Homo sapiens: one gene and its partner. The protein of the gene in region 1 interacts with the protein of each later gene in a pairwise test. Each region holds a gene or a part of one and is shown on either strand. Other genes may lie near its edges. The genes, in order: PPARD and PRMT3.

The links.
Region 2: the proteins of PPARD (region 1) and PRMT3 interact in a two-hybrid assay, tested with the Homo sapiens proteins (one large-scale study listed by BioGRID and IntAct).

Annotation. Positions count from the first base shown.
Region 1 is NC_000006.12:35,408,558-35,412,379, forward strand, and holds part of PPARD (peroxisome proliferator-activated receptor delta), read left to right. Parts: intron 1-1,656; exon of another isoform or gene 1,657-1,805; intron 1,806-2,429; 5' UTR 2,430-2,530; coding exon 2,531-2,660; intron 2,661-3,822. UniProt on the Homo sapiens protein: Ligand-activated transcription factor key mediator of energy metabolism in adipose tissues. Receptor that binds peroxisome proliferators such as hypolipidemic drugs and fatty acids.
Region 2 is NC_000011.10:20,460,473-20,464,294, forward strand, and holds part of PRMT3 (protein arginine N-methyltransferase 3), read left to right. Parts: intron 1-1,507; coding exon 1,508-1,695; intron 1,696-3,822. UniProt on the Homo sapiens protein: Protein-arginine N-methyltransferase that catalyzes both the monomethylation and asymmetric dimethylation of the guanidino nitrogens of arginine residues in target proteins, and therefore falls into the group of type I methyltransferases.

The DNA of each region.
Region 1 (3,822 bases):
ATTAAACAAACTATCAAGTCCCTGCAATGCAGTGTAAATGAGTAAAGAGCCTGCAGGGGAGAAACTGCCACTAGTGGAGACCATGCGAGTGGGCAGCCGATTGCTTGGCTCTGGGGGTGGGTGCCAGAGGCATGCAGGTGCCCAAGGGCCAGGTCTGCCCAATTTTCAAGAGAAGCCAGAAAACCAAAATTTTTAAAGGTTTTTTCGTTCTAACTCTATTTTGAAAAAAGTTCGGTGTTACAGAGTAAGTTGCAGAGATTGTACAGAGTCCCCACATATCCTTTACCCAGCTCACATTAAATCTTACATAAAGGAACACTGGTACAATACTATTAACCAAAGTCAGTGTGTTGTTCAGACCTTACCAGTTTTTCTGCCACTGCCCCCTTTCTGCTTCGGGGATCTGGTCCAGGATCCCACATTCATTTAGTTGTGTCTCTGTGGTCTGCTCCTGTCTGTGAGGCTTCCTCAGTCACAAAGCTAGAGGTTTACGTGACCTTTTCCAGGTTTTCCCACTCTAATGATTTGGAAATCATACATCGGCATCTTGAGACATCTTTTGAGAAGTAAAGGGACTTGAGCTGATTGAATGTTGATCACTCCCTCTCATCTTCCACATTATTAAGTTTTGCCTTCTTATTTTATTATAATTTAAATTATTTTTAAGCCAGGCACAGTGGCTCATGCCTGTAATTCCAATACCTTGGTAGGCCAAGGTGGGCAGATTGCTTGAGCCCAGGAGTCCAAAACCAGCCGGGGCAACATAGCAAAACCTTATCCCTAAAAAAAAATACAGAAATTAGCTGGTGTGGTAGTGCACACCTGTGGTCCCAGCTACTTGGGTGGCTGAGGTGGGAGGATCCCTTGAGCACGGGAGATAAAGGCTGCAGTGAGCCATGATTGCGCCACTGCACTCCAGCCTAGGCGACAGAGTGAGACTGTCTCAAAAAACAATAACAACAACAACAAAAAAACCCATCAGAAAACAGCTAAGAGTTTTGTGGTGGTGTTTTATTTTAGGTTCAGGGTACAGATGCAGGTTTGTTATGTGGGTGAACTTGTGTCACAGGCGTTTATTATACAGATTATTTCATCACCCAGGTACTAAGACTAGTACCCGATAGTTATTTTTTCTGCTCCTCTCCTCCTCCCAGCCTCCACCCTCAAGTAGGCCCCGAGGTTATTGTTAAGTCCAAGCAAGGGAAGGCCTGGTGGAAATGAATGTGTAGCCTTAACATGTTTTGTACAAACTTGGCTGTACATTACAATCACCAGGACAATTAAAAAATAAGAAACCCAATGTCCAAGCTGCTCCCCAAACCAATCAAAGGAGAATCTCTGGGGATGGGACCAGGCATCTGTCTTTTTAAAAACTCCCCAGTGACTACAGTGTACAGCCGAGTTGGCAGGTCTAGAGCAGGGAGAGAGAGCAGAAGGAGTCTCTGATCACTCCAGGTTCTGGTTCTGATGAGTGGGTAGACAGGCAGGTGGGTTGCTAAAGTAAAGATTACTAGAGGACGAATGGGTTTGGGGAAAATGATGGGTTCTGTTTGGATAGATTGAGTTTGAGCTGTCGGTAAAATATCTGAGAGTTGGGGTCCCACAGATGCTTAACATCTTAAAGCAGATCTTTTCTTCTCCTGATCCTTCCACAAGGTCTGGTGCAGACATTTCCCCGCTGGGAGACTCTCCACAGTACCTCATGATCTTATCATCTCTGACTGTGGCATTTGTGGATAATGTTTTACTTGCTAAGGGTTGGAACTGTCTCCTCCTGGGTGATGTGGACGTGGCATCACCACCCAGTAAGTTGTCACCTTGGAAAGACTCCAGGATGGAGCACATCTTCCTTTTTCTGATGTCTCTGCTATTGAGGCCATGGTTGCAGATCTGCTGTCAACATGAGCCAAGAACAGCAGGGCTTTATGTCTTTTTTCCACACCCAACCACTGAAAGGATGGGACTCACCCCTTCAGGAACAGTAGCACAGCAGAGCCGTGATTCTTGGGCCTGAGTGCTGATAGGGACAGGGTCGGGGATGGGAGGCGTGATGCATATCTGGATCTCCAGGTGGGCTGGAGAGTTGGGAAAAGCCCCTCAAGTCATTCCAATGTGCTTCCTGGAGACTCAGAACAGAAGGCAGCAGAGGAGGCAGGGAAGGGTGGCACAGTGATGTGTCACCTCTCTAGTTTATGGAGCCTGCTCCGAACCCCACAAACCCACTACAAGAGCCAGGTGGGAAGGGTGATAGGGCAGGTGACTTGTGATACAAGGAGCAGAGACCATGGTATAGCACTGCAGGAACTAGGGAAGGAGCAGGAGCAGAAGAACCCCCTCCATGACAGCAGCCCCCAAGCGTGCCCCACTCGCACCATCCTCTTCCTTGTCACTGCCTCCCCTGACCTCTTCCTGTCTTCTCCTCTGCCCAGGCTGATGGGAACCACCCTGTAGAGGTCCATCTGCGTTCAGACCCAGACGATGCCAGAGCTATGACTGGGCCTGCAGGTGTGGCGCCGAGGGGAGATCAGCCATGGAGCAGCCACAGGAGGAAGCCCCTGAGGTCCGGGAAGAGGAGGAGAAAGAGGAAGTGGCAGAGGCAGAAGGAGCCCCAGAGCTCAATGGGGGACCACAGCATGCACTTCCTTCCAGCAGCTACACAGGTGAGGAGAGGACTGGCAGGGGACACGGGGCAGAGGAGGCACAGCCCAGTGCAGTGGGGATCCTGGCCCTCTGCAAACGCCATCATGTGGGGCGCAGAGTAGCAGAGTGCTGAAGGACTGGAGCCGGAAGCCTGGGTTCACGCCCAGTGCGGTGGGGATCTGCTCTGCCACTCACCAGCAGTGGGGCCTGGAGCAAGCTGCACCACTTCCTTCTGTAAAACAGGCCAAAGGATGGTAGGTGATGTGGATATGGGCTTTCGTGAGAATTAAATGAGTGGGCATCTGTAACACATGTCATCATCATTATTAGTATTCCCACCACTGTTAACACAAGGCATCTGAGACCAATCTCCACTAACAGCACACTAGAAAGATCAGCTGTACCTGGGATTGTTATGATCAGTCGAAACACACAGTTCAATTGGTCTGGTAATAATTATACACATCATCATTGAGCCGTATCATAATTAGATAAAAATGCTAAGCAGTTAGTATGAATAACTCAACTAATATTATTTTTATGCAGCCAAGCAGTTGTAGCTTCTCCTGTCTCACTTATTGGTTCCCCTTTATTTATCAGCAGTGCAGACAGTTTTCTCTAGTACCCTGTACTGTTCTGTCATCTTCATCATCATCATGTTATGTTTACCTTCAAAAGCACCCAGAATCCATGCAGCCCCTGGCTTTCCCTGCTGCAGTTCCCCCTGCTTTTTTGTTTTTGTGGTTTTTGAGACAAAGTCTCCTTCTGTTGCCCAGACTAGAGTGCAGTGGCACAGTCTCAGCTCACTGCAACCTCTGCCTCCTGGGTTCAAGTGATTCTCCTGCCTCAGCCTCCCGAGTAGCTGGGATTATAGGCGTGCACCACCACGCCCGGCTAATTTTTGTATTTTTTTAGTAAAGATGGGGTTTCACCATGTTGGCCAGGCTGGTCTCGAACCGCTGGGCTCAAGCAATCCACCCACCTCAGCCTCCCAAAGTGCTGGGATTACAAGCAGGAGCCACCGCGCCTGGCCTGATCCCTCTGCTTCTTGCTTTCTCCCACCACTTCTCTCCTTACCCAAGTGCTGCAGGCCTGCACATGCAGCTCATCCTCGCTCCTCCCCTTAGAGGGAACTCAGGGTCATAAGGATATACTGCTGGGAGTAGACACCCTGCACTCGCT
Region 2 (3,822 bases), on another chromosome or scaffold:
GGTTCTCTTACTTTTGTGGCTCCAGCTTCTCGGTCAAGTCCCTTGAATTCTAGTATTCATTATCTATTCTCCCTAGGTCTCATGAACTCCCTTTACTTATCTTTCATTTATATGCCTATGGTCTCCAAATTTATGTCTTCAACTTAGATATCCTTTTTTGAATTTCAGACCTTTGTATTCAGCTACATTTCAGACATTTTTATTTGTTTATCTCTTAAGCACTAAATGCTCCTGTTCCTTTTGAATCTGCCCATATTTATGTCCTATTATAATGGTTAGTACCACAATCTGTGCTGTTACTAAAGCTAAATACTGTCATCCTTGACCTTTTGCCCCACAGCCACTCAGCCTCAAAGTCCTCTGAGTTCTACTTCATAAATATCCCTTGAATACATCTCATCCTTTCCATTCCCACAGCAATATCCTAGTTCAGATCACCTGGTTTATTTTAACTATCTCTTAATTTGTCTCTGTTTTCATCTTAGACCCTCCCATTATTCTCCACATTGCATTCCAGGTGGTTTGTCTAAAATCAAAATCTAGTCATGTTGCTACCCTATGTAAAATTTTTTACTGGATTATCATTATTCTTAGAATTAAGTCCAGTTTACTAATTTGGTTTACTCAGCATGTAGTCTTTGGTCTCTACTTACCTTTCTAGCCTTGTGTCTTATTTCTCTCTCAATTAGATTGTATATGGGCCATCCCATCTATTGTGACCCTTTATGCACACTGCTGCTCACTTTGCCTAGAATACACTTTCCCTCCCCACTCCCAACTTACTGGGCTTCAGTTCTTATCTTATATATTATCCCTTCTCCCCTGCTCCAGCCAAGTCTGAATTAGCTGGTTTTGCCATGAGCTCCCTTAGTACCTTGGATGCTCCTGTTCTTAGTATTTATTACCTCACAAATAACTATGCATTTCTTTTTCAAAATAGTCTAAATATAAGTTTATTGAGGATAGTGATATGTGTCCATAGTCTGTAAATTAGACTGGCACATGTGTCTGGCACATACTTTATGCTTATAAATATTTTTCTATTAAATGAGAGTAATATGAAGTGGTCTTCTGTATAACTATAAAACCCTATTACATGATTTTCTTACATGCTACATATCTTTTTAAATGATTTGTCCTTTTCTGCATGTTTTTAGAGGAATATAGGAATAAGTAAAGATCTAGTACCTTTTAAGTTAGCATACTTTAAGTTTTAATATCAATAAATATGTTTATTTCAGAATTGTTTAATTATATAACCCTATTTTAATTCAAACCCTATCATTGGAATCCCTGTTTTAATTTTATCATCATGATAATGCGTATCTGTTTTTAAAAGAGGCTACAAGATGAAGCATGGTTGTTTTTCCTGATCTATACCTTCATTAATCTCCCATTGCTAGTAATCCTTACTGATGGATTTGATATTTATATTTAGGCTTTAAAAAATTATATTCCATAAGAAAGGGAGATAATGCTTAATTGTTGGGCATTTTGTTTGTTACAGTCTACCCTGACATTTGCACTATCAGCCTTGTAGCAGTGAGTGATGTGAATAAACATGCTGATAGAATTGCTTTTTGGGATGATGTCTATGGCTTCAAGATGTCCTGCATGAAGAAAGCAGTTATTCCAGAAGCTGTTGTGGAAGTTTTAGATCCGAAGACTCTTATTTCAGAACCTTGTGGTATTAAGGTAGGTGTTTTACCAACTTTATTTTTTATAATGGTATTGCTATTTTTCTTAGTTCAGCATTTGAAAATAATATATTGATTTTATATATGGGCTTTCAAAACAGTACTTTTCCCATTGTAATCAGTCTAAAACAAATTGAGGTCATAATATTTACCAGTTGACTATATCATCTCTTTAGAATCACTTCTCTGTATATTAAAACTCCTTACACTCAGTTTTACAGTCCTTCAAATCTAACTCTGAACCGGTTGAATAATTTATATTTACTTTGGCTTAATAAGGTAAAAAGTCCTGCTGTATTATCAGTTCTGCTTCATCATCCTCCCCAGCCTTATTTTAGCTTCTCATTTACAGCCAGATTATTCATTCGTGTCATATATTCCACACAGTTTAACTTCTCTCATTCAGATTTCTTCCAGCGTTTTCAGATTAAGTAATTACATATAGTAAATTTGCCCATGAAACGAAAGCCCTACTATGTTCAGATTTCTCAGTTAATTCCTTTTGTGTTTTGTCATCTTATTTTTTGCCATGTTAATCTCTGGGTTTATTATGAATTTTTCTATGTTGAATTTACATGGGTTCACTAATAACTTTGCAGCAAAAAACAATACTGCTTTTCTTAACTCTTGGTCTGTTTCAACTAGATAATCAAATCTAGAGCAGTATGTTCAGTGTTAGGTTCAGGATATTGTCTTTGTCTCAAGAGAAAAAAAAAAAAAGAGTCTCACTCTGTCGCCCAGGCTGGAGTGCAGTGGCGCAATCTCGGCTCACTGCAATCTCCGCCTCCCGTGTTCAAGCGATTCCCCTGCCTCAGCCTCCCAAGTAGCTGGGACTACAGGCATGCACCACCATGCCTGGCTAAATTTTTGTATTTTAGTAGAGATGGGGTTTCACCGTGTTGACCAGGATGGTCTTGATCTCCTGACCTCATGATCCGCCTGCCTCGGCCTCCCGAAGTGCTGTCTTCTCGTTTTAATCACGCTGTTACTTTCATATAGCATCAATATTTCTTCTCTGTACAAAGCAGATATTTAGTACATATTTAATTTTCTTAAATGGATAAAGCATTAATAGTATAGAGTAATAAATGTGAAGTTTCTTAACAAGAGCAGGCTGATTAAAAGTGCGTTCAGCTTTTAAGAAAAACAGTCTGCTTGATGGTTATACGACTTCAGTGCTCTGGTACAGTGAGAATAAAGAGTTTATTTGGGCTCTTTGGCTCAGGATAGGAGTGTACAGTTATAACCAACTAAGCCTTAAAGTTGAGCAGAAAGAGGAGAGTTGGTGGAGGTTGCTGATTTCTCTCTCTAGTGATCTCTGCTTAATGCAAAAACTGCCATGAATAAATAGTTGAGACAGAAAAATTTAGACCTGAAAATAAGGTGTTAAAAAGTGTATGTACTCTTTTTTTTTTTTTAACATTTATTTAAGTAAATAGTTTGTTCTGTATTTTCCAGTCCTCCCACAAACACATTGTACTGTTAAAATGTTTTCTCAAATTGTTTTCAATAGTGTCTCAGATGTGTGGTTACATTAATTGCATTCACTGGGTTATGATCTACTCCTGGCTGGATCTACTCAGCTGATGACGGTCTTTACAGCACACTTCTGGTTAGACTGCTGTAGTTGAAAGGTGATTCCATCCCTTCTCCAAAGTATAATGGAGAAGGATTTGAAAAAGGGCAGAATGGGAAAATAAAGATATTTCGCTATTTTTTCTCTGGATCGAAATCTCCATAGTTTTGCTGTTTTGTTTGAATTGTGTGGTTTCTCCTCATATCTAACAAAACTTATCTTCAATTATAGACATGAATTTTAAAACAACTTTCTTTTCATTAGCATGTGTTTTCAAGTTGGCAGTTCCTATAAATGTATTGACTGTTATCACACATATTTTATAGCAGTTGTGGTGGGTGTACCATACACAGTAGGCAAAATGATGTTAGGTGAAACACAGGAAAACATTTTTTATTTGAAAGTATTTATTTTAGTGTGTCAGGAAAACTTTAGCACATTAGCACTATGATTTGATAAATACTATTGTTTACAAGGAGCCTAAGTTAAATGAATTTAAGAAAAAATTAACAAGATGATAGTACTAGTACTCCTTAAACTTATAAATAA